Regions from separate parts of the Homo sapiens genome. Here regions 1, 2, 3, 5 and 6 are each linked to region 4. Evidence: fine-mapped expression QTL. A gene starts in region 4. Each other region holds a variant in brackets. All regions are shown on one strand. Distances are from middle to middle. Region 1 overlaps PHACTR1 (phosphatase and actin regulator 1). Region 2 holds the start of LOC105374933 (a long non-coding RNA gene). Region 3 overlaps PHACTR1 (phosphatase and actin regulator 1). Region 4 holds the start of PHACTR1 (phosphatase and actin regulator 1). Region 5 overlaps PHACTR1 (phosphatase and actin regulator 1). Region 6 overlaps PHACTR1 (phosphatase and actin regulator 1).

Evidence for each region. PIP is the estimated chance that this variant, and not a neighbour inherited with it, causes the effect.
Region 1: its variant is fine-mapped to the expression of PHACTR1 in whole blood (INTERVAL, PIP above 0.99).
Region 2: its variant is fine-mapped to the expression of PHACTR1 in whole blood (TOPMed, PIP above 0.99).
Region 3: its variant is fine-mapped to the expression of PHACTR1 in whole blood (TOPMed, PIP above 0.99).
Region 5: its variant is fine-mapped to the expression of PHACTR1 in whole blood (TOPMed, PIP above 0.99).
Region 6: its variant is fine-mapped to the expression of PHACTR1 in whole blood (TOPMed, PIP above 0.99).

The regions. Positions count from the first base shown.
Region 1 is chr6:13,201,198-13,205,283 of GRCh38, forward strand. All of the region lies in intron 7 of PHACTR1 (phosphatase and actin regulator 1), which reads left to right. Among named protein-coding and RNA genes, the nearest start is that of TBC1D7, 130 kb to the right of the region's middle. The variant A/G (reference allele first, on the strand shown) is at 2,141.
Region 2 is chr6:13,228,273-13,232,358 of GRCh38, forward strand. It overlaps PHACTR1 (phosphatase and actin regulator 1), which reads left to right. Exons shown (of 15, transcript NM_030948.6): 10 at 1,765-1,921. It overlaps LOC105374933 (a long non-coding RNA gene), which reads right to left and starts at 1,701. Exons shown (of 4, transcript XR_007059456.1): 1 at 1,249-1,701; 2 at 1-847. RefSeq lists an enhancer at 1,000-1,059 and a silencer at 1,230-1,319. The variant C/T (reference allele first, on the strand shown) is at 1,681.
Region 3 is chr6:13,284,572-13,288,657 of GRCh38, forward strand. PHACTR1 (phosphatase and actin regulator 1) reads left to right here. Exons shown (of 15, transcript NM_030948.6): 14 at 1,575-1,651; 15 at 2,492-3,266. The coding sequence ends at 2,507. All of the region lies in intron 8 of TBC1D7-LOC100130357 (TBC1D7-LOC100130357 readthrough), which reads right to left. The region is part of intron 3 of LOC100130357 (a long non-coding RNA gene); the gene reads right to left. Among named protein-coding and RNA genes, the nearest start is that of TBC1D7, 42 kb to the right of the region's middle. The variant A/G (reference allele first, on the strand shown) is at 1,714.
Region 4 is chr6:12,715,109-12,719,194 of GRCh38, forward strand. PHACTR1 (phosphatase and actin regulator 1) reads left to right here and starts at 1,659. Exons shown (of 15, transcript NM_030948.6): 1 at 1,659-1,788; 2 at 2,401-2,635; 3 at 3,591-3,739. The coding sequence starts at 3,637. All of the region lies in intron 1 of LOC107984015 (a long non-coding RNA gene), which reads right to left.
Region 5 is chr6:13,272,492-13,276,577 of GRCh38, forward strand. PHACTR1 (phosphatase and actin regulator 1) reads left to right here. Exons shown (of 15, transcript NM_030948.6): 11 at 369-424. The region is part of intron 8 of TBC1D7-LOC100130357 (TBC1D7-LOC100130357 readthrough); the gene reads right to left. It also overlaps a transcript of LOC100130357 not described here. Among named protein-coding and RNA genes, the nearest start is that of TBC1D7, 54 kb to the right of the region's middle. RefSeq lists enhancers at 1-88, 800-1,999. The variant A/G (reference allele first, on the strand shown) is at 1,677.
Region 6 is chr6:13,278,635-13,282,720 of GRCh38, forward strand. All of the region lies in intron 12 of PHACTR1 (phosphatase and actin regulator 1), which reads left to right. All of the region lies in intron 8 of TBC1D7-LOC100130357 (TBC1D7-LOC100130357 readthrough), which reads right to left. LOC100130357 (a long non-coding RNA gene) reads right to left here. Exons shown (of 5, transcript NR_160971.1): 4 at 2,795-2,919; 5 at 523-2,522. Among named protein-coding and RNA genes, the nearest start is that of TBC1D7, 48 kb to the right of the region's middle. The variant G/T (reference allele first, on the strand shown) is at 1,800.

The sequences.
Region 1 (4,086 bases), 490 kb after region 4:
GCACAAAACAGAGCCAAATTCACTGGCGCTGCTGACCACCAGGGTTGTAGGAGTTAAGGGAGGAAAGGCTGCCAGAGGAAAGCGGGTCTTCATTTGCCGCTTGAGGGGCAAATGCAATTTTTATTATCAAGGAACAGGAAGGCATTTCAGGAGGTGAGTACAGCAAAGGCCCTGAAGAGAGAAGGAGCGTGGTTATCGGGAAATCCAGAGGCCAGAGTGGACGAGAGAGATGTAAGTGGGAGACTCATAGTAGAGTCCAGACAGAGTCATACTTGGACTTGCAGCATGGACTGAGCATGGAGCCATCATGGACCTCACGCATGCCCAGCAGGTGCTGTAGGGAGATAGATATCTGGTACAGAGTGGGGACAGATCAGAGGGCTGGGACCGCATTATCCACACGATAAGAGGAGATGAGTGTCTAGACTGGTGTAGTGGTCAAGAAGCCAGAGAATACAGAAGTCTGAGTGGGAAAAGGGAGATTAAAAGCTTAGATGGAAGTTCAGAATGACAGATAATATGCAGCTGGTTCCAAATCGTGCCTCTAGTTATGTTATGGGGAATGACTTGGTGTTAAGATGTTGTAAAAATATACAAATAGGCATTGCCACTCTAACAAAGACATGAGCTGCCCAGCCTCTCCTCAGTTATCCACAATTTTAGGGAAAGATAGAGACTGCATGGCTAATTCACAGAAAGCAAGTAATTCTACCTGATTTTAGCCCTTTTCTTACTTTTGTTCATTTTTATGAAATCCACTGAGCCAAAAATGATTTTAAATGATTTGCTTTTATTCGCTGCCCTTTAATTCATAGCTATGTGCATCACAATGACCAGAAAGGAGATGCAGCAGGAAAGAAGGAGGGGGGTTCCCCAAGGCCCCAGCATGCCTTTCCTGGAACAGTAAGAACAACCGTCTCCACTAACTTGGTCCAGCTGGCCTTTTCTTCCTTGCCTGTTTCCATAGAATTGCTGGGGCTCACTTGGCCAATTTTCTAGTGATGAAACCAAGTAGGTTTTGCTATGGAAGAAGTCACAAGAAGTGGTGGAATGTTACGAGAAGCTATTGATTAACAAGATGGGCAGAACTCAATATAATCACTGCTCCTTCCTAGGCAGAGAATTCCACTCTGCCCTCCTGGTTCTTTCTCCTGACCAAGCAAATGAGCACCTACTTGCCTTAGAGAATCAGAGTCTTCAAATGAAGGACTATGGGTTAAGGGTCCTGGAGCAAAATCCTTAACACCTCAGGACATACTGCATTTGCTAGGTTTGCACTGAAGCTTTTTTTTTTTTTTTTTTGAGACAGAGTTTCACTCGCCCAGGCTATAGTGCAATGGTGCAATCTCAGCTCACTGCAAAGTCCACCTCTTGGGTTTAAGTGATTCTCCTGCCTCAGCCTCCCAAGTAGCTGGGATTACAGGCACCTGCCACCACACCCAGCTAATTTTGTATTTTTAGTAGAGACGGGGTTTCACCATGTTGGTCAGGCTGGTCTTGAACTCCTGACCTCAAGTAATCCACCTGCCTCGGCCTCGAAAAGTGCTGGGATTACAGGCGTGGGCCACCGCGCCCGCCTGCACTGAAGCTTCTAAGAGCTATGTAAGTGGACCCTTCAGTAAGATGAGCTGGACAATGGTGTTGAGTTTTTCCGTGTCTCAGCACTTTGGAACTAGCTAGCCTGCCTGTTAAGTTCCTGAATGTGGTGACCTTGCACCATGTGCATGAGGGGTCACAATGAACAGGACAAGCCCTCAGGAATGAACATGCGGAAGCCTGTGGTTATGACTGGTTTGCATTCTGGTGTTGGGGAGCAATCTTATCAGGCCCCCTGAAATGATTAGAATTTTCTGTGTCTCAGCGGTAGGATCAGAAGTTTAGTGTCCATATGCCACAACTGCGTGATCCTAAAATTGTAATCTGTTTCAGGCTCACATCTCCCTCCTAGAGTATCTATTTCTGGGGAAGGTGTGAATTCATCCCACAGCAGATCATCATAACTTTGGCTCATTCTGTAAACATGATTTGCATCTCTTGTGATGTGAGCTGGTCACTGAACAAGATGCTGAGGTTTGAGGTACAATAATAAATTACACACTGTCACTCTTCTCCGGGAGAGGAGACAGTTATGTAAACAGGA[A/G]GTGCAGCATAGTGTCTTCAGAGACCCTGTTTCATCATCTGTAAACATGAGATAATAATGGCATCTACCTCAGACTTGTTGTAAGGATTAAACCGGTTAGAATACAAAGAGCCCTTAGAACAGTATCTGGCACATAGTAAGCATGATAGAAGTCTTGATTATCATGACTGTCGTCATTCCTGCTATCATCATTAACACGATTAACACGGACATAATATGCATCCACGTTCCCACTCTCTTTCCACAGAGTGGGAAGAGGGATGTAATGATCAAGGAAGGCTTTTCAGGGGTGATTGTTTGTGAGGTGGATCTTGAAGGGCGACTAGTAATTGACCAAGAAGACAAAACAGAGGAGAATATTCTAAACTGAGGGAAAGTGACATGCAAAAGCCTAGGGTTATGGGAACATCAGGCAGTTTAGGAAACTCAGCAGTTCAGGAGTGAGGGTGGATGGTCTGGGTAATGGTGAGAAAAGTGGGCTGGAACTAAATGGGAGGTGGGGAAGCCGTGAGTGCTCCTCTTCAGTTCCTCACTGGGATAGGGAGAGGCATCTGTGGAAGGTGAGGATCCTGGAGGAGGCTGGGGAAGACTGCAGCAGCTCTTGGGAGAATGGCCAAGGCCACCTGGTCAACTTTGTTGAGCATGGAGACCCTGAATCCATGGGCCACCAAATAAGTAGAATCCACAGGAGAAGTGATCTGGGCCATAGGAGAGATTCTGCTCCAGCTTTTCAGGTGCCATAGGTAAGGTTATTTCCAACTGGGGGAACCAGAGCAGACTTTATAGAGGTACAATGTGGACATGAAGAGATGAACCAAGCAGGAGCCAGCCCATGGAAGGCCTTGAATGATGTATCAGGAAGGTTTAGTCCATGGATGGGTTTTAAACTGGGGAGCTACGTAATCAGATTTGTGCTCTAGGAATGTCATTTTGGCAGGACTGTAAGTTAGACTGGAGGAAGGCCACGTTCAAGGCAGATAGATCATTAGAGAAGAATCTATGGCCTCCGAGATGGAGAGTCAGAACTGCGTGGTGCTCCCCAACACGGGGTGCCAGTGGGGCATTGAGACTCCCTACTCCTCCCTGCTGTGCTGTTCCAGACCATGCTTCTCCCAGGCAAGCCTACAACCCACAGGGTTCAACCAGGTTCCCCTCCAGAAATGTGGGGTATGGCAGCAGGCTACATCTTCCCAGAAATGCCCTGGGGTCTAGTCTGACCCTGAGCCCCTCAAATGTGGAGCATCTCTAGGAAGCTCAATGGCATTGTCATGGAACCCAGCAGTTGGTCCTAGGTAGGTTCCAGCAGCCTGGAATCCCCTGTGGGAGCCTCCTTACTGTTTCAGTAGCCCACACTTGAGTGGGCCCACCAGTCCAGCAGTCACTCTCACTCCTGCCCCACTCGTGCACCCAAGCCAGGATCTGCAAAAACTAATCTTCACAAAGCATCCTCTCAAAGCAGGATGGTCGTCCCTAGGTGATGGAAGAGGGAATTAAGGTTGGCAGCAGTAAAGGCACTTGCAGAGTGGCATGCTGTTGGTGGACTTGACCCTAGGGCTGGCTTTAAATCCCATGCCTGTTGGGAAGTTCCAGCTTTGAAAGGATCTGTTCACATCATAATGGCAAAATTGTAGACATATATTGTAGACTAGCATGTCTTGGTCTGTTTTGTGTTGCTGTAACAATACCTGAGGCCAGGTAATTTGTGAAGAAAAGAGATTTCTTTAGCTCACAGTTCTGCAGACTGGGAAGTATGAGAAACATGGTGCTTCTGGTGAGGGCCTCTGGCTGCTTCCACCTATGGAGGAAAGCAGAAGGGGAGCTGGTGTGTGCAGAGAGCACATGGCAAGAGAGGAAGCAAAGGAGAGAAACTGAGGAACCCAGACTCTTCTTAACAACCCACTCTTCCTTGGGAACTAGTCCGTTCCTGGGAGAGCTCGAACTCGCTC
Region 2 (4,086 bases), 510 kb after region 4:
CTTAAATTCCCTCCTAGCTCTAAAAATTACTGCCACCTCCTACCTCTTTAAGTGGCTTCTTTGTTGCTTCTCTTAGGATGCAACTTCTCCCCCACCCAAAAAAAACTTTAAGAAGTTTAAAACTCTGTCCCTGTCTAGCAAACACTCAAATACTACTCACTGTGTATGCAACAAATTCACTTTTTAAGCATACCTCAGCAACTTTAGAAGGCCTCAATTTAAATTTCTTATTTATGACCTTTAAATGTGCTAAGAGACAAGAGAAGAAATGAAGAAAGCAAAGTTCAAAACCTATCACTCTGGCCATGAACAGTAAATAAATTTTAGTTACGTGAGTACAGCCTGATATTTGGCCAACTTTTTAATAAATGAACTTATGAGAATAGCAACCATGCATTGAACATGTACTGTGTGCCTGACAATGGGCTACGGTTTTAATCTCTCACCTACATCTCACAACAACCCTGAGGCATGGACACTATTGCCTCATTTTACAGATAAGGGCAGAAAATGGAGAGACAAGGCGCTGGCCCAGGGCCTCACGTCTGCTAAGGGGCAACGCTGGGGTTTGATGCGGGCTCTGTCACATTCTGAAGCTCATGTTCTAAAACTAGTGGAGGAAGAAAGAAGAAAAGCACTACTCAATCAAGCCCAAAGCCATCCTCAGACTTGTTGCCTGCTGGCGTTTTCTCTCGCTCTCTACTTACCAGGCTTCAAATAGCTGGCTCCAAGTAAGACCTGGTGAGCTATGAAGGGATCCAAGTGATGTCAAGGAAAGAACCACACAGGGCAGCCAGAGACCTCAATGATCCATGAATGGAAGGAGCAGCTGCTCAGCCCCTGTTTGCTGTTCAGTATCCAGAGAATTAAATGTTTTATACAGAGGTTTCTCAACCTCAGCACTCCCGGCATTTGGGACCAGATAATTCTTTGGTGTGGGGCCGTCCTGTACACTGTGGGATGTTTACAGGCATCCCTGGCCTCTGTCCGCTAGATGCCAGTAGCACCCTCTGCCTGCCACCTTAGTTTTGACAACCAAAAAATGCCTTGGGATTTTGCCAGGTGTTCCCTGGGGAGCAAAATCACCACTGGTTGAGAACCACTGATTTATATCAGATGTAGGGAAGCCCTGCCTCAGCTGCTCAGAAATGCTGGGGTTGAAAAGAAAAAACCCATCCCAGGATATTGCGTGTTTCAAAGCCCTCACCTCCACTCCCACCCCCAACCAGCCCCACTTTGTCCGCCTACCTTTTTTCTCCTTCACGTCCCCCCAGCTCCAGTGTAGTTGATCTTTTCTGTCTCTTGAGATTTCCTGGTGTAGCCTTCACCGCTGAACTTCTGCAGACACAGATCCCCGCCCACCTGCTGCCTGTTGGACTCTCATCTCTGCTTCAGGTGTCAGCCCCTCCTCCTCGTGAAACTTCCCCTAGTTGCTAAAAGCCTCTGTCCTATCTCCCCCTTTGCAGTCCACTGCACCCCACAGCCAGTCCTGCCCTCCTTTGTGATGTTGCCTGCGTGCTAGACATTCCTGGAGAGCAGAGACCCAATCACAGGTTCCCCATGTGCTGTCCATGTGCCCCACACAGTGCTAGGGGTAGAGTGTGTGGCAATGGCAGGAACTCTAGGAACTGAGGCATTAACCACTTTCAGGTGTTAAAACCTTGATGACTTCCTTCCTGC[C/T]TTGTATCTTATGACCCAGGGTTGGCCCTGTGGGAGCCCAGGCAGATATGTAAGCCTTAATTGACTCATTTCTGTCTCCTACAGGCTCCCTGGCCATGAAGGTCTGCAGGAAGGACTCCTTAGCCATCAAACTCAGCAACAGGCCCTCCAAGCGAGAGCTGGAAGAAAAGAACATCCTTCCCAGGCAGACGGATGAGGAGCGGCTGGAGCTGAGGCAACAGATTGGCACCAAGCTCACCAGGTAGGACAGCGGCACCCTCTGCCTCCCTGGCAGTGGGCCTTTAGCTCTCCAGGTTCTAGCAAAAGAATTCAGTCTCGGCCGGGCGCAGTAGCTTATGCCTGTAATCCCAGCACTTTGGGAGGCCGAGGCAGGTGGATCACATGAGGTCAGGAGTTCAAGACCAGCCTGGCCAACATGGTGAAACCCCATCTCTACTAAAAATGCAAAAATTAGTCAGGCATGGTGGCCTGTAGTCCCAGCTACTCGGGAGGCTGAGGCAGGAGGATTGCTTGAATCTGGGAGGTGTAGGTTCCAGTGAGCCGAGATCACACCATTGCACCCCAGCCTGTGTGACAGAGCAAGACTCTGTCTCAAAAAAAAAAAAAAAAAAAAAGGAAGAGACAATGGAAAACATCCCATTTTGTCTCCAAGGTTGTTTCTATAGTGCCCTCTCCTTTATTTATCCAAATCTTGGAAAATTCACTTGATTCAAGGTTCAGGGAGAAATTGAGAGGCAGGTTTCCAGGGAGAATAATCATCTGTAGAAAAGCCTCCATCATCTGGCCAGGCACGGTGGCTCACACCGGTAGTCCTAATACATTGGGTGGCCAAAGTGGGCAGACTGTTTGAGCCCAGGAGTTTGAGGCCAGCCTGAGCAACAAAGTAAAACCCCATCTCTACATAAAATCAAAAATTAGCGAGATGTGGTGGCACATGCCTGTGGTCCCGGCTACATGGGAGGTTAAGGCAAGAGGATGGCTTGAGCACAGGAGGTCAAGGCTGCAGTGAGCCATTATTGTGCCACTGCACTCCAGCCCAGGTGACAGAGAGAGAGAGAGAGAGAAGGAAAGAAAGAAAGAGAGAGAGAGAGAAAGGAAGGAAGGAAGGAAGGAAGGAAGGAAGGAAGGAAGGAAGAAGGAAGGAAGGGAAAAGAAAGAAGGAAAGAGAGAAAGAAAGAAGGAAAGAGAAAGAAAGAAGGAAAGAGAAAGAGCGAAAGAGGAGGAGGGAGGGAGGGAGGAAGGAAAGAAGGAAGGAAGGAAGGGAAAAGAAAGAAGGAAAGAGAGAAAGAAAGAAGGAAAGAGAAAGAAAGAAGGAAAGAGAAAGAAGGAAAGAGAAAGAGAGAGCGAAAGAGAAGGAGGGAGGGAGGAAGGAAAGAAGGAAGGAAGGAAGGGGAAAGAAAGAAGGAAAGAGAGAAAGAAAGAAGGAAAGAGAAAGAAAGAAGGAAAGAGAAAGAAGGAAAGAGAAAGAGAGAGCGAAAGAGAAGGAGGGAGGGAGGAAGGAAAGAAGGAAGGAAGGAAGGAAGGAAAGAAGGAAGGAAGGAAGAACAGCCTCCATCATGTAATAGAATTGAGGACCTATGGAGAGATAAGGTGTGGTTTGATTAAGCACAAAGCAATCAGACAAACACACTCTCTGATATACGGTTAAGTGGTTGGTAGTGATGCTTCATTACTCCACTGGGACTCATTTTGAGTGATTGCCCTTTATGTATGGATATTACAGACATGGGCATAGCTTTATGTTATATTAAGATATTAACCACCCATGTATGTATTTGTAATCAAGGGCATGTTTATGTGACATTAGGTAACCTTTGTTGAGTACTTACTATTTGCCACCATTCTCTAAACATTTTATATGTATTACATTGTTTGTCTTTGAGCCTGTCTATAAGATACACCATTTGTATACCCATTTTACAGATGAGAATACCAGGCATAGAGAACTTTGGTTACTTTGCATAATGTCACACAGCACAGCTCTGGAATTCTCTCTCTTGAGCCCTTACTTTGTACCAGACACTGTTGTGAGTGCCTGGACATAATGTGTGGAAGTCTACCAGGGCTTAATTCTGATTCTCCCTCTTACTAGGTGTATAGCCTTAAGTAAGTCACTTATTCTCCTTACCTGTGTTTCTGCATATGTAAAAGAGTGAGTTGTGAAAATTAAGCAAGTTAATAGAAGTATTTAAAACAGTATCTGGCCCATAGCAAGCAATCAGTTACCTGTTTTCACCATCACCTTTGCATTGTACAAGTGAGAAAGGTGGTGCCTAGAGGTTATGTAGACATAGGCATCATCCAACAGTATGCCAGTATTCTTCCCTCCCACCTGATTTATTTTGCTACCTAAGAGCAGCTTCTTTTTCAAAATTAACTTGGTTTCCTCTTGGAGGATATTGTAAT
Region 3 (4,086 bases), 570 kb after region 4:
ATACACGTATATATATATATATATACTGGAATAATGATTCTGCCCAATGTGTAGGTAACGATAGAAACTATGGAGTGTGTCAGGGGCCTTCTGCTCAACAGTCCTGCCTTCACTGTCCGTTTCAGGGACCCAGGGTTTTCTTATATGATACAGCAGGAAGTCATTTATGGCCCAGGCTGGCTACATTATCACCAACCCTGGATCCAGGAGGTGCAGGAAACATGTATGCAGGCACATTGCTGCACTTGGCTGGGACGGAAGCAGCAAGAGGCAGATAGACTTCCAGAGACGACCTCGCCTGTGGCGGGTCAACCCACAGACACCATGTGTGGAAGACTGTGCCCTCCTCTGTAAACACAGCATTCACATCTTCTCTGCAAGGGAATTTGTGGGAGCAACCCAGGAACTGGCATTGCCATGCCCCTGACAGACAAACCCAGCTCCCCAGGAGTGTGTCATCTAAATACGAAGAGGAAGGGGCTTTCACTCTTGTCCTCTCCTGTCCACACTCTCTCTGCGGTATGCTTGCAAGGATAAGGATATTAGCAAGTGTGCAAGAAAACCACAGACATCTCTACTTGCACCCTCATAGAGTTCTGAGTAGCTCTTAGGCCGAAAACATATCCAGTTTCTCAATGGCTGTTGGGGACAGAAGACAGGAAGCATGGGGTGACCCCTGCCCCCACCCCCAAAGCTGCTACCCAGGCACTTAAACCTAAGCCAGCCTTCTTTTCCTGGGGAGGGCCATTCTGATCCTACAGGAAGACTTTTCTCTCCTCAAACTCCTGGGGCCTTGATATTCCCATCAAAGCAAGTATCGGCCATAGACAGAGCTATGCAAGAAGGCACACGTTTGCAATTTCCACCCTTGAGGAAGGAGTGAGGTTGTCTCTGGCCCCAGCTGCCTTCTTTACCAGCCCCTCCTCCTCCCCTGCTCTCTCATGGCCTCTCTTTGCTGTCTGATTCCAGGCCCTGTGTCTTCAGTGGCAGTATTATAAGGATGGGGTGATTCGGGATCATCTCAGAACATGTGAGGTTATTCAAAATGTATCTCACATGGTGAAATACATCACTGAAGAGTCAGGGAAGTTGTAAAAGAGCAAAAACAAACTGTTGGTAGGGAGCTGGCCATCACCTGTCCCCCTAATTTGGTTGGAGAATTTGATCCACGCCTTCTGGAAGTCTCCACCTCGAGGCATCACTGTGCCTGTGCTGAGCTTTGTTTATTTATGGAAGATGAGAGGTTGACATTGAATGTGTTCTTGGGCCCCCAGGAGTGTGGGGTAGGTGTACACCACCACTGATGCCTCAATGCCACAGCTCTATGAAAAGAGGAAGAAAAACACACTTTGGGCAATAGCCTGTCATCATTTGCAACTTAGATTTAGGGAAGGAGGGGAATCTTTGTTTTAAAGGACATCTCAGGTGATTTTTCTTCCTCCCAATGAAAGAATCCATCTTAAACTTGTTTGTCTTTGTTGAAGAAGAAAAATATGTTGTTAGGAATGAACTGAAAGGGGAGTTTTTTTCTGTCTCTCTCCCATTGCACATTGATGGGCTTCTGTTGATTCCAGGCTGCCATCCGAAAGGAGCTCAATGAATTCAAAAGCACTGAGATGGAAGTTCATGAATTGAGTAGACACTTAACAAGGTTAGTATTAAGGGTTTTTTTTTTCCTTTTTTTCCCTCAAGTTGCAATATTTATCTCCAAAT[A/G]AAGCTCTCCCACTTGTGGGACATGAGTGGGTTGGAGGGTGCCATGAGAGGGAAGATAGTAGGAAGGCAGGCATGCGGTTCCACTTTAGGTTACTGAAACGAGGAAGTGGAACACAGATGGCCCGGGCTAAAACCAACTTTCTGCAAAGTCTGAGTTTCACTCATTTAAACTAAAGGTCTGATAAGCACCAGACTACCAACGACCCCAAGGTGGGTTTTTGTGAAAACTTAGGTCAAGGAGAAAAGATTGTTGCCAATTTGCAACCAGTCAGCAGAGGCCAAACCTGAACAAAATACCACATCCACACGGGACTTCCAAAGTGGACCACTTCTGTTATTCCCTGACATTCTCCCTGACAGTCCAGCATCATGATGATATTTGGGAAAACCGAGGCATGGAGTGATTAAGAGGATTATATAAGGTTGCATTGCTAGTTAGCAACAGAGCCATTGATTTAATTCTGACTTTCTTTTGGGGGGAACATTTAGAGAAATAGGATATAGCAAGTATTTAGTCTAGAGACTCAGAGACACAGATTGGGTTCTGCACCTTGCTGCTGGATCCAGGCTGATGGCAGGAGGTGGAGGCCACCAGGGCTGCCCCAGATGAAACTTTCAAAGCCAGGTGTGTGTTCAGTGGTACTCCTGTGGGGATGACGGTGGGAAGCTCGCACCTCCCTCTCACGGTCAAGAACCTCCCTGAAGATGGGAGATTGGACTGTTGAATCCTGCACCTTTGGCAGCCCCTTGGTCTTGATGTAATTGTTTGTTTCCTTAGGTTTCACCGACCTTAACAGTCGAATTCCTCTTGAGTGCTATGCTGTCTTCAAAACATAAATTTATAAGAACCATAAGTGCTGGTATTTATTCACTTCCCCATTACGATGTAAATCTTCTGAACTGCCTTTTTTTTAAAAAGAAGAAAAATCAAGGAAACACAATCAGGATTTTATGTGTGAAAACGCAAAAGTGATGGCTCGGCGGTCCGAGCTGCTGGTCCCACTTCTGACACCAAAATGCATCCCAACCCCCGGCAGTGCCAAGGGCACCAGCAGGGCCCTGACTGAAGACTGTCTGGCAGGTGGAACGGTCCTTGTCCTCTCCAGCCAGGCCCAGCAGGCACTACCTTCATGAAGTCTCCAGCAAACCTCTTCCTCACAAGTGTCTGTCATCTGAGTCCAAAGAAAGCTGAAGGGGTGGGTTTGTTTTGGGGGTACTGTGCAAAGCTAATGATCTGGTTGGACTTCTACACTTGGCCAAATGTACTGGCTCCAGACATGACATTTGGTTTGGGGGCCCTTTGAAGTTGATGCCAAGAAGGAGTGAACACTTCTCAGTTGCCCCTGGCTTTTCCCTCCTTTCAGCCACCACCCACACAATGAACAAAAGGGAAGGGCCCATTTCTGGGGGAGTCTGGCTGCCTCTTGGCTACGAAGGCTGGCACTGAGCACCCATCCTGCTCCCTCTGCCTGAGCTGAGCTGCCTTTCAGGAAGCTCTGGTTTAGAAGGGGAAAGATGTCATATGCTCAGTTCAAATAATCAACCCAACTGTGTCCAGAGTGTCCAGTGTCATGAGTGACCCACGCACACACACAGCCATTGCTAAGGTACTCCTGTGCTGTTTATAAGTCTGAGTGGGAGGACCCTATTGAATCCTGTGGGGTCAGAAACTGCTTGGCTGACATTTATTTTCTCTGTGCGCCTTGAAGCTGATTATATGGCTTGGGAGTTCTTAGCTTCTGTGTATAGGACCAGTGCATGCAGGCCAGAAACCACTCCTGTAGGACTGGCTTTCCAGCCACTGAGGGACTTGGAACCACTCCATGGCCTTCTCTTTTTTTTTTTTTTTTTTTTTTTTTTTTTTTTTTTTGCACTGAAGAGTTTCTGTGAAGGAGCCCCAGAGTTGGGCATGTGCCAGAATCAGGCCAACACCAGCCACACCTGTCCACAGTGCCCCTTCCTGCTCCAGTTGATCCAGAGAGCTCCTCCCTCTACCCTCATGATGCCAGGGAGCGTGACTGTGGGTGTGTCTCTGACTGGGACACCCAGGATAGGGTGTGCGATGAGGCCAGGACCCTCCTAAACCCTAACAGCATCCTAACGAGGCCCATTGCAGCTTTCGATTTCCTTCATAACAGAGCTCGCAGGCCCTCAGTTGCAGAGCTCTCTCACCTTCTGGAGTGACTCCATCGTTACTCCAGTCTTTCTAGGTGGTGGAACTCTCCACCACACATGCCATTTAGAAAGACGCCAGCTTGGCCTTTCCAAAAAGTTAACCAGTCGTCTCCCCACCACAAACCCTGTGGGAGCAGGTTACTCTTAGGATGCACACCCGTCAACGAGGCCATTGCATTTTTTTGCAGGCATGAACGG
Region 4 (4,086 bases):
AGCGATTCTCCTGTTCAGCCTCCCAAGTAGCTGGAATTACAGGTACCCAACACCATGCCTGGCTAATTTTTTATATTTTTAGTAGAGATGGGGTTTCACCATGTTGGCCAGGCTGGTCTTGAACTCCTAACCTCAGGTGATCCACCCACCTTGACTTCCCATAGTGCTGGGATTACAGACATGAGCCTCTGTGCCCGGCCCCAAATACATTTCTTTAAGTTGAAATTTTCCCTCCTGAGTTTTCTTAAATTACGACCCTTTCATATTATTTGTTCACTTTGTAAAGTATTTTAAATTTCTCTTTCTTGGTCAACTCTCCAGAAATGACTGACTTCCAAATCCACCACCTACCCCCTGGGAATCAACTCTATTTTTCACATTTCCAGTTTAGCATCTCTTTCTTCAATCACACATTCATTTGCACTCACCTAAAGGTTTGGTCAGCAGCATAGACTTATACTCTCTCTCTCTCTCTTTCTCTCATCTATGAGTCATTACAATTTCAGTAGAATTACAATAACGAGTTCAGAACCTGTCGCCCACACCTCACAGTAAGTAAAAGGAACCAGAAGACAGCTTTCTCCTCTTATAAATGTCAAGTGTTCAGCATGTCTCCAGTGGGTGCTGAATAGAAAAGTAACCTTAAAGAAGTCAGTCCTTGGGTTGGAGCAAAGCTTTCAGAATTCAGAGTCCATAGTTGACTTTCCTACAAGGGCATATGATTGGTAGTTTCAGCTTCCTTTTTCATGAGGCTTAACTGTCTGCAGCACCGGCTTGGTGTCTGATCTGTTCTGATCGGGTGGGAGAGGGAGACCCCACAAAACAAACAGCAGAGGATTTTCAGGTTTGTTTCAAGGGCAGCCAGCCGAGCTGTGTATAGGGAGTGGGGGGACAGGGGTGGTGTTGATGGTCTTCCTTCCGAGGCTTATCAAATGTAAATGCTCTTTTCTTAACAAGCTGACCCACTGTACACCACACCATACTAATGAGCAATTCTGCTTGGTCAACAAAGGGTGCAAGAGGTTGTGGAAAACCCACAGTAGGGCTTGCATTTGGCTATCACTATGCCCTGCATGAAGATCTCAAAGTACTGTGCCTAAAAGTCATTACTGAGGTTTGGTAGGAAGAATATTAAACCAGAATAACTTGAGATACTAGCCAAAGTTTATTTTTGTTGTTGGTATTATTTTGTTACATTCAGACAGAGAGAAATGCATTTAGGCAGACTGGCATGATCTGCGCTGGATATTTGACCAGGCAATCAGAAGCAAGGAAAGGAAGAAAGCCAGGCAAGAGGGAAGGGGTGACATCAAACGTGCCCTCTGTATTTCGCTCCAGAAAACAGCTCACAATTATGACTACCTGCCTTGTTTTGCAGCTCAGCATAAAAGTGGTGTTGCACCAAACCCTACTGGAGCAGCCTTCATGATTAGAAAGTACTCCACACCTTGGAGAGCTGAGGAGACATGAGAATAATTTTAAATGCAAATTAAATTGAGGGGGTAGCAGAGAAGAACACATAAAAGACAGTAAAACAAAACCTTTCAATTTTCTTAAATTAGCAGTCTAATGTGTTCTAAAGAGCAGCTCCACTCAGATCTCTTCTTAAGGGTTGCATTTCATCACAGTATAAATGGGCAAATCCATCACTTCCCTCTGCTCAGTGCTCTTGAAGCGAGATTGAAGGGAAAATTAGAAGCTGTTCATTTGTGCTTGCGGGCTCAGAAGCGTCGCACTGCTTTGTTTTGTACTCTACCGTGTCCTGTTGAAAGGGGTCAACAAGTGCCGGTGAGTATCCGCTAACTTCCAGACTCTTCCTTTCAAATATCTTTTTGGCTAATTTTCCTTTGCCGGGGATGGGGGTTGTGGGGGGAGTGGGGATCTCCCACAAAATCTATGCTATAATATGTCTTTCAGAATCTGGGAAATTTCAGACAGCTTTTTAAGCTTCTTCCAGTGACTGATTTGCAGAAGGGAAGAGTTATTTTCAGCCTAGATGCCGGTGGCTGTTCTGTGTATTAATTATAACAGGGGAATGTCTAACGTATGTTAAGCTAAAATGGCCTTTCCCTAAACTCCCCCATTCCCTGCCACTCTTAGGCCAGCATTAGGGTAATAACTGGTGCCCCCACAAAAATTTCTAGACAACTTTTCTATATATTAAATTTTTAATCATTTCATATTCTATTCTTTTGTAGCTGCAAATCAAACTAAGATTTGGGATTATGAAAATAAACAATGAAGACATAAATCTGTTTTGTTTTTTTTTTAATGACTATGGCACTTCTCTGCCTAAGAGATAGGGGGCTGGGGAATAGCCCTGCATGATGTATGCATGTGGATTTGATGATTTTCTGCCAAAGTTTTACACGGGAAACTGGTAATTTTCTCCCTTCGCAGGGGAGGGTGCAGAGGCTGAGGCTGGCGTCACCTTCCGTTGCTAAGGTAACGTGCTCTGGCCATTTTATCTGATAAAGGAAGTCCAGTGGACTGTATGCATTATTCATCACTGTTCTAATCAAACAATCAAAATCGTTTACTTTCACCGGGAATATTTAGCAAGATCAAAGACACTCTGGCTGGAACGGCTCTTGTTTTACCGCTGACAGATAGCCTTTGATTTTTATTTTTTGCAGTAAGTATATTTGCTATTGGGGTACCTTTGGGTATTTTTAAAAGTTTTGTCTTACCGGACTTGGTTTCTTAAATTAAAATACATACTGTTAGAAAGAGAAACCAATTGGATTAGACTTCCAAGCTTGGTTTTAATGACTTTGTCTTGTTAATTCTTTCCAAAAAAATATTCTGCAGAAATAGAGATAATTCATTTGTGTGAGTATCAGGGAAAGGCTACATAGGCTTGAAAAAAGAACCCAACAGGCTGAATGTTTTCTGGGGAAGTATATTAGCTTTGTGACAGGCTAGTGTATGATAATATAGGGATCACTGTAATGCTGCAATCATTCTTGCTGCTCTACAAACCACAATTGTTTCTCAAAAATCAGCCCCTGCCAGGCACAGGCAGGTGACGATCCTCTAGCACTTTATAAAATGTGCTGAAGGGAATCGCCGGAAAGGAAGGAATTCAAAGCATTTGTACAGCAAATATGTCAGTGTGTGTCATAAACGCACGGCATCTATGAGTGGAGGCTCGGATTCCCAGGCAATTTTCCCTGCTCCAGGGGAATCCGAAAGTCCCAGGATGAGCTGAGGATCAACACTCACAACGGCTGACACTTAATGACGCTATTTATCAAATAGACCTTTTGAAAACTGATAGCATGTGAATTTAACAGTATATGTTCCAGAGAATATAAAGCAAGGAAAGGCTGGTATGTTATCTCTCTTTAGATCAGATCATCTGTTTTTCCTGAGTAGAATATATTACTTTTAATGAATGTTGGCTAAATGCGGCATTTTCTCACACGGTAGGAAAGCTATGCTGGGGGGTGGCTTTAGAATTGCAAATGTCAATCAAGTAGTAGAATATTATAATGGGATATTCTTATTCAAACATTTTAAAGTACATCTATATATACACTTTATACTTGACGTCTAAAATATTGTGGATTTTTTTTTCCTCTTTATAGGTGTTCCAGTGTTTTCTCTCAAAACTCTGTGTTTGGAACATCAAGGATGGATTATCCCAAAATGGATTATTTTCTGGATGTAGAGTCTGCTCACAGACTCTTGGATGTTGAGTCAGCTCAAAGATTCTTCTACAGTCAAGGAGCTCAAGGTAATAAAATAAGAAAAAGAAATTCCTCTTATTTGCACGTCGGTTTTATATGAACAGCCATGTAGGCTGTAGCTGTTAAAGCCTTGCTCTGAAAGTTTAATAACCGGTATTTCTAAGTTGATAACCTCTACCAAACTGCTGCTGGAATTGAGGCAGGTATATAATAGAATAAATAAATCCACACTTCTTGGATGTGGTTAAAAAAATGCCCAACTTTTGGTGTAAGTGCCCCTCAGAAAGCTATGTTAGAAATGATTTCCTACCACCTGTGTCCAACACTTATGTCCAAAAAGAATCAAGAATGCTCTTCCCCTTGGAGAATTTCCAGTTTGCAGCCACAGCTCTTG
Region 5 (4,086 bases), 560 kb after region 4:
GAGAGGCAAGAGGCCACAGTCCCCAAGTTAGGAGGCCACAAGGAAAGAAAAGGACTTCTGTGAAGAAAAGAGTCCCGTCTGAGTTGCAGTCCACTTGCCTGGGGCCACTGGAGGAGATGGGGCTGGGGAGGGGCCGCTGCAGGGAGGAGGGCGGGGGTCAGCGGCTGTGACATGACGCACGTGCCTCTCCTGGGCTTGAAATTGAGGAACTGAGGAGGCGGTGGTGGCGAGAGTCAGTCTTTCAGAGCACAGGATGGAACAAGAACTCCAGCCACTGACTGTCTCATGTATCTGCAAGGGCCGAGGAAATTAATGACCCAAGGAGGCTATGATATGGTCCAAAAACTTTTCCTGGATTTTTTCCGTAGGCGGCTGAGCCAGAGGCCAACTGCAGAGGAACTGGAACAGAGGAACATTTTGAAACGTAAGTGACTAAGCCCATGGCAATCCCTGATGTTTTGTGGCGGCTTTTGTTATTATTTAATGGTAGGCCACAAGGTTTCTACCTTGCGCCTCTGCGGAAAGCATTGAAAACCTTTCTAACGGTTGAAGCTTCATGTGTGCATGTTAGAACACCAAAGACGACCTCCCCAAAGAGAAGGCAAATTTTATTCCACTTTATTCTTTAGAAGCTCACGGGCGGCAGGCAGAACCTTCCTTTTAGTGAGTTGTAAAGTCAGAGAGAAGCTGAAAAATTAGAGTGAGACCACTTATTATTTAATGATTTTTAAGAGCAGGGTCACCTTTAAACCAGAATTGGCTTGAAAATGGAGACTGTGATATGCACGGCTAAAATAAGGGAAATGTCCATTTGAACTGAGACTAGAAAGCATGACTTTGCATTGCAGCTGGCTGCTGTTGATAAAAATCCCTCATCCCTTTGAATGTTAAATTGAAAGACTAAGAAAGCATTTCCAAGTGAAGTGCTTCATGTCTGTCTCTCAGGATTCCCACAGCTGGTCCCGGGCATGCCTGTCTGATGCTCTCATTCGAGGAAAACTGCCTTTCACCATTGCTGCAGACAGAAAAAAATAAATGAGCCCCTTGTTTGGTTTAGGACACAGAGACATTTGAATATGTACAGAGGATCCACTTGGTGCTTTAAAAAAAAAAAGAGAAAACAGGATACAAAATACTAAAAGAGATCAAGCATTTGATGGACAGCAGTATGCGTCAGTTTAGTGGTAGATATTAAATAACTTAAATATCAAACCATTCTATTCATTCATTGCTACCATTCTCGCCAACACTGGCCTCAAGATAGTGAACAAATATTTCTGGCTTAATTCATGACCCTGTTCCCCCTACCCCACAACACACTTCTAATTTCTCTCCAGAAGAGAAAGATATATACTATGCAGAGTTTTCTAGAAATGCTATGTTGTACAGACTGACTCCTTGCCTCCCCCGGCCCCCCCGCCCCGCCCCGCCCCGTGCCCAGTAAATCACATGCAACCGCAGTGTGAGTTTGCCGGGAATTTCCACTGAAACCACACTAAGATATTCTTGACTTTACCTTTCTACCGTGCTCACTGTGGCCTTGTGACTTGGTCGGCATTTCGTAGTCTGCTGAAGGTGGGTGCTGGGTTCCGCTTTGGTGGGGAGACCTGTTGCCTACAGCACCCACCCCCGCCCGACGCCCCCGCATGTCCGTTTATGTCAACTCTGCCTTTATC[A/G]ATGTCTTGCCTCCCGTCCCCACGCCAGCCGCCACTTCCTCAACTCTCAGTAGAAGTTATTTTCAGGATTAGCCTTCCTCAGTCGTGGGGGAACCCTACGCTTTGCCTAGGTCTCTAGGAATGTGTGTTTACTTTTTTCTGCCCAAGGGGTACCCTTTAAAGTTTCCAAGCTTAATATTCTATATAATGAATTCAGAGCTTTTTCAAAGCATTTCCAAGGTCAGGGAAGCATTTGGCTTGTAGGATGTCTTCCTTTCGGCCCCAATCTGGTACCTGAGCCATTATAAACTTCCCATTGTTGGAGAGAAAGATAAACAGCCAGGTGAACCTGTACAACTTACTCACAGCCCGCTGCTGTACTTGTGGCCTCTGACCTGAGACCTAAACTCAAAGAAGCTAAAAGCCTCCGGGGGATTATTTAGGTTTCAGAAAATAGTGCTTATCACACCAGGAGTACGGTTTCTGGAGAGATCTAAAATCCCCTAGCTCAGCTCTGGGCTCTCTCAAAGATATCAGATCCCCGCTGTGGCTTGTCCAGATCCCTGGGAGACTACAGGTCCTTTGAGCTTGGGTTTTTACCGCCATCAACCAGGGAACTTAGATTCAGGGGACCAAAAAGGAGTTGTGAAAGATTGTTCCCATGGTTCTCTTTTATTCTCTTCCCTAATCCCTCTTGTCCTGGCCACATAGTTGCAAATTAAAGAACTACTTGACCAATTCTAACAGGTTGGTCATTTCATAGTTTTGAAACTTTTCAGAAATCAACTTGTTTTCCCATAGGTTCTTATTTTTCCCTGTATTCTGGAACTATGTTCTCCTAAATATTTTTTTAAATTTAATCTATTGCGATTGTTAAACAAAAAAAATGTCTAGTGGTATAAGAAAACATCCTCCAATAGTTTGTTTTAAAACTGATTTTCTGAGCTTTCAGCCATTTGAGGAACTGCTCGGTGTTGGGTGGTGGGGAACAGGGCACAGAGATGCCATGGCTCAGCCCTGGAGCTTTGAGAGCCTTGGGTTGGTTTCCAGCCCCACCCTGCCTGGTCCTGGGAGCAGCCCCTGTTCTGTCCAGCAGCCAGTGAGGCCCTGTGCACCTCTGAGCACATAATGAACCCTCTGACGGTGGCAGCTGTAATGACGACATCGTAGGCCTTTCCTGGCCTGTCTTCCTAGTTGCCTAATGGGGTTGTCTTGGTACCTTCTGCCTGAAAATTCATGAACCTGGGTTGGTCAATGGCTTTGAACTAAAGGTATCAATTCTGTAGGTGGTAGCTTGTGGCCCCACCCCTCAGAGTGACCTAAGAAACGCACATAGGAGATGAAGGCTCCATGCTGTGTCAGCTGTGTCACAGGATGCCCGCCTTCACGGCTCTGAAGGGACCTGTAGGATCAGAAGTCTGAGGCTAGTAATGAGGAGGAGAGCCGGCCCCACACAAAACATGACCACAGGAAAAAACCTATCTGTGTAACCACTGAGCCAGGTAGGGTGTGACTGGCCACTTAACACCCCTGAGGCTTCAGATCCTCAGTTATAAACCAGGAGTGGTAGACGAGGTGGTCACTAGGTCCCCTCATGGCCCTAGTATTCTGTGCTTCTGTAAATTTTCACCGTGTGCCCTCTAGCTGTCCCTGGTGACCCAACATCCAGACCACCTTTTCTTCCATCCGTTTTCCCACCTGAGACATCGCAAAATGGGAGTTCCCTCCTTCTGGTTCTTGCTGTCTGCCTCCCCATTTAACTCTGCTAGATTAATTCATACTAAGATATTAATGGCTGACTAGTTTAATAGGTTTTATCCCACTGAAATTTGCATTTGTACAAATGTCACTGTCTGGGGGCTCCCTACTTCCGGGTGTTGCTGTCTGCCCCCCAGTTTATCTCTACTAGATTAATTCATACTGAGCTATTAATGGCTGACTAGTTTAATGGGCTTTTATTCAAGAGAAATTTGCATTAAAAAAAAAAAAAACCTCTCCGGGAGGGAGATAGGATCTCTAAATCCAAAGGAAAGCACACTCATGGTGACGGTTTCAGGCACTGTAGGGTAGGCTGGAGCAGGGACCTCTGGTGACCTCAGCCCACAGCAAGATGTGGCTGTTTCTTGTGCTGCCTTTCTACAAAGCCTTATGCCCACAGGCGGTTGGGGGGCCAAATCAGGCCCGTGGGGGTGGCCCTCAAGGGCCTGATTTCTGCTCTGACCTTACACCACTTGTGCTAGTGGGAGGTATAGTCACCTTGAGTGTAAAGGTGACACAGTTATCAGATGGTCCCCACCCCTTTCTAGGCACAGGGGGTTTCCTTCCTTTAAAGACCTGTCCCAAGGCCGGGCGCGGTGGCTCACGCCTATAATCCCAGCACTCTGGGAGGCTGAGGCGGGTGGATCACCTGAGGTCAGGAGTTCGAGACCAG
Region 6 (4,086 bases), 560 kb after region 4:
TTAAGCAATGGGAAATTCATAATCAAAATCAGTAGTTCAAAGGCCAGGTTCAGTGGTTCATGCCTATAAACCCAGCACTTTGGGAGGCCAAGGTGAGTGGATAGCTTGAAGCCAGGAGTTCGAGACCAGCCTGGGCAACATGGTAAAATGCTGTCTTTGTCAAAGTAAATATACAAAAACTAGCTGTGCATGGTGATGTGCACCTGTAGTCCCAGATACATGGGAGTCTGAGGTTGGAGAATTGCTTGAGCCCAGGAGGCAGAGGTTGCAGTGAGCCGAGATCGCGCCACTGCACTCCAGCCTGGGCAACAGAGCAAGACTCTGTCTCAAAAAAAAAAAAAAATTACTAGTTCGAATATTACACAATTATTTGCTATGACCCTGGGAAAGTATAGACTTTTTTTTTTTTTTTGCTCCCCCTGACACTATTCTTTCCCTAGGAATTAAGAACTATGCAACTTTATTAGGCTAAATTACGAAAGTACTGACAAATTTAAAGCAGATGTTTGAGAAGCACATAGCTTAAAGTCATAAAACTGGAATTTTAATATAGTCTTAACCCCAAAAATAGATGGTTTGGCAATGCACTGTAGCCTCGCATGCATCTCATTCCACATGAGTGTCCTCTTTAATAATAAACGCATTGTTAAGGCTATTCTTGGATGATGCTGAAAAGTTTAATTAATTGATGACATGCAAGATACAATACTCCCTTCTGTCTGACGAAGTCAAAGTGTTTTTAATCAGCCTCCTACAGTGACCATCTTGAGAGAAAGATACTCTCATATCTTAGCTACAGTTAAGAGGCCCATTAATATTAATTTTAAAAAGGTTTATTAGTGGATTTTTCTCTCCAGAAATATCACACAAAGGAAGAAATTCAGAGATCCTGAAATATCATACCAATTATTAAGGTGATGGTTTGTATTTCTCCACACTTTCCCTGCGAGCATCCCAAATACCTGGTGACAAGCCAAATGCCAACCCAATTAGCAAGAGCTGGACAAACAAGTGCCTGAATGGCCAGACGACTGGCTGGGGTCACCCTGGTGGAGACTAGAGCAAGAGCTAAGTGACTTCACCAGCCAGTCGCTGTCCCACCCGTCAAGGTTGGACCCTTTACATCCTTAAGCCCACCCACTCTTTGGATGCAGGGTGCAGTTTTTCCTGAGCTTGAGTAGTGAGAAGAGCAGGAGAGATGCATTAGCTTTTTCTCATCGTGTCCTTGAAATGACTGGGGCTCGAAAAAGACACTGTGATAAACTTTCATTTCTGATACAGAAAGGTCTAGACACTTAGAAAAAAAAAAAGTTGTTTAAATCAGATTTTCATCAAATTTTTCAGAATTGGTTGCTGGATCCCCAAAATTCACCCAGTTTTAAGGTTGCTTGCTAAAAGACGGTCACAGAGAAATACTTAGACATTTATTTAATTCCTATCTCTTAACAAAGTTGATATGATTTTGCGGAGAACTTGACTAACTGCATGATTTGGTAATGAGCGAGTAAAGAGTCTTCCTTTCCACACCCATCTCCCTAGGGTAGGTGACACTAGGGATGGGGACCCCAAATAGTTCATAGGTTTTGCGGGTCTCCACAATCAAATAATTGCCTCTCTGTTCCTGCTCACCTCTCCTTTCTTCTCCCAGGGAAATGGCCTTGGAATTTTAGCATTTGCCCTCCCCTGGGACTGGCTGGGGGGGTTAGAAATAAGGAGCTTGAGAGGGGATAACTGCTTCTAAGAGAGAGACTGGAGAACAGAGGGGCAACTTCCATATCTGCTTTTGCGGGCAGAGATGT[G/T]GCGCCTTCCGGCAGGTAGGGAACCTACATCATCACTTCCTGGCCCTGTGAAGGTTCTTCTCCTCTTGAGCATTTATCACACTGAGACCAGATGCCAGTGATGGGGGCTGCTTTACAGTGATCTGCCTTCAGCCCAATAACTTCTTCAATAAAATTCTATTTAACTGTAATGCACTAGTAAGAAAAATAAAAAATAAAGCGTAGTAACTGAGGCTGATAGCAACAGACCAGTCATTTTCTCTGACCAAACTGAGACTAATATAAAAATTACATGCTTTGTCTTTTTAAAAAAGACATGCCTGCGGCCAGGCGCAGTGGCTCACGCCTGTAATCCCAGCACTTTGGGAGGCCGAGGCGGGCCTGACTTTGGCTGCAAAGATTATTTTTGCAGCATTCAAGGAAGGACTTCAGGTTCCAGATGCCCCGAAGGCTACAGCCAGCACCAGGCCAAAGGTGCGTCTTCTGAGCCTTTCGTGGTCAGGGACATGAGCCCATGCACACAGAGGAGCGTCCTGGTGGCCGTTTGTTAGTGCTGGGGTCCGTGCACCAACTGTGACTCTGAGAGGCAGCAGCCAGCTGCATCCTCGCTCATTCCCTCTGAGCACTTGTGCTCTATGCTGTCTTGATTTGGAAAGACGGTGTCCAAGGCCCCGCGATGTTCAGGCATAAGAAACAGCCCCTGACCTGCAGCATTTATGCTTAGTCTTCGGTTCACTCCAGACTCTGCCATAGATAGGACATTAGTAAAATCCAGGTCAGTTTCCAGGAAGAGAAATTTGAAAGTCAGGGCTTAACAACTTTTCTCACATCATGGGTGCACTCAGAAAATAACCCTTTGGGCCGGGCTCGGTGGCTCATATCTGTAATCCCAGCACTTTGGGAGGCTGAGAACGGCGGATCATTTGAGATCAGGAGTTCGAGAGCAGTCTGGGCAATATGGCGAAACCCTATCTCTATTAAAAATACAAAAATTAGCCGGACAAGGTGGCGCATACCTGTAATCCCAGCTACTCGGGAGGCTGAGGCAGGAGAGTTACTTGCACCCAAGAGGCGGAGGTTGCAGTGAGCCGAGATCATTGCACCATTGAACTCCAGCCTGGGCAACAGAGTGAGACTCCGTCTAAAAAAAGAAAAATGAAGAAAAGAAAATAACACTTTGTCTGGCCCCTTGAGGTAAACCCAGCAAGTCCTGAGGAACACAGACAGGATTCTGAGTAGGAGTCTGTTTATCTGGAGTAAATATGGCAAATGTTGCATGTCTTTATGTATTTTAATTATAGCACAAAATCTCCCTGCACTCACATTGTGGAGAACATGTTTTGGAGTCAGGATGACTGCTGTTTTTGTTTACGGTGACCACAGCCATAACAGCCTGGGAAGCCTGTGGGTTCCCGCGACAGGCCCACACTGGTGCCAGAATGTTGTCGTGCCTAAGAAAGCCAAGGGAGGCCTACATGCAGTCTAGGCAGGGGGGCCGGCACCAGAGGCGGCTGAGCCCCTGATCCCCAGAGCTTCCTGCCTTTGGCTGAGAGGGAGCTGTAGGCCTGCCTTGGCCCTGTCCGGGGTGTGCCACCACTCTATTTGATACCTGCCAGCCATCCTCTAATTGTGCTCTGCCAGCGTGGGAGCAAGTTGGAACATTCTCGCACTAGCCACGGGTGTCTGGAAGCTGCCTGTTGCAGAGTCGAAACTGCCAGGGTGGTTTGGACTCCATTGTGTTTGTTTTACGGGCCTGAGTTGCAAGATTCTATGAGATAGTGTCTTCTAGTAATAGAATTACACAGAGTCTAGGGCTCAAAGGGAAAACTGCTTTTAAATAGCATTGATTGAACATCATTTGACAGCATCTTAAAGAGAGCAACTGTGTTGCTCCAGGAGAAATAAACCTGGTGACAGGAAGAGATAATAGAAATGTCAGCCTTATGTTGCTAAAGTAGAGGAAGGGTCTTCATGGCTAATATCGGGAGATGGCAAAATACATACGAATCTTCCTTTTACTTGCTTCATCCCTCATTCCTGCAGTCCTTCATCATGCACCATCCAAAGGGCTGGTCCTGAGTCTCCCTTGGCATAAATGTGGCCTTTTTCTGTACTTACTCAACTCCGCATTTGTTGACTGACCTTCCCCTTGAACTTCTTGCAGAGGGCCGTCAGCAATGTTTGGGCTGACCTCTTCAGCCAGCAGATTCCCATCCCTGCATACCCCAGAGTTTGCATACCATTTGCACATACGCTTTTTTGCATCTAAAACCCACACAAAATGCACTGCAAAACCCCCTTGCAGAAA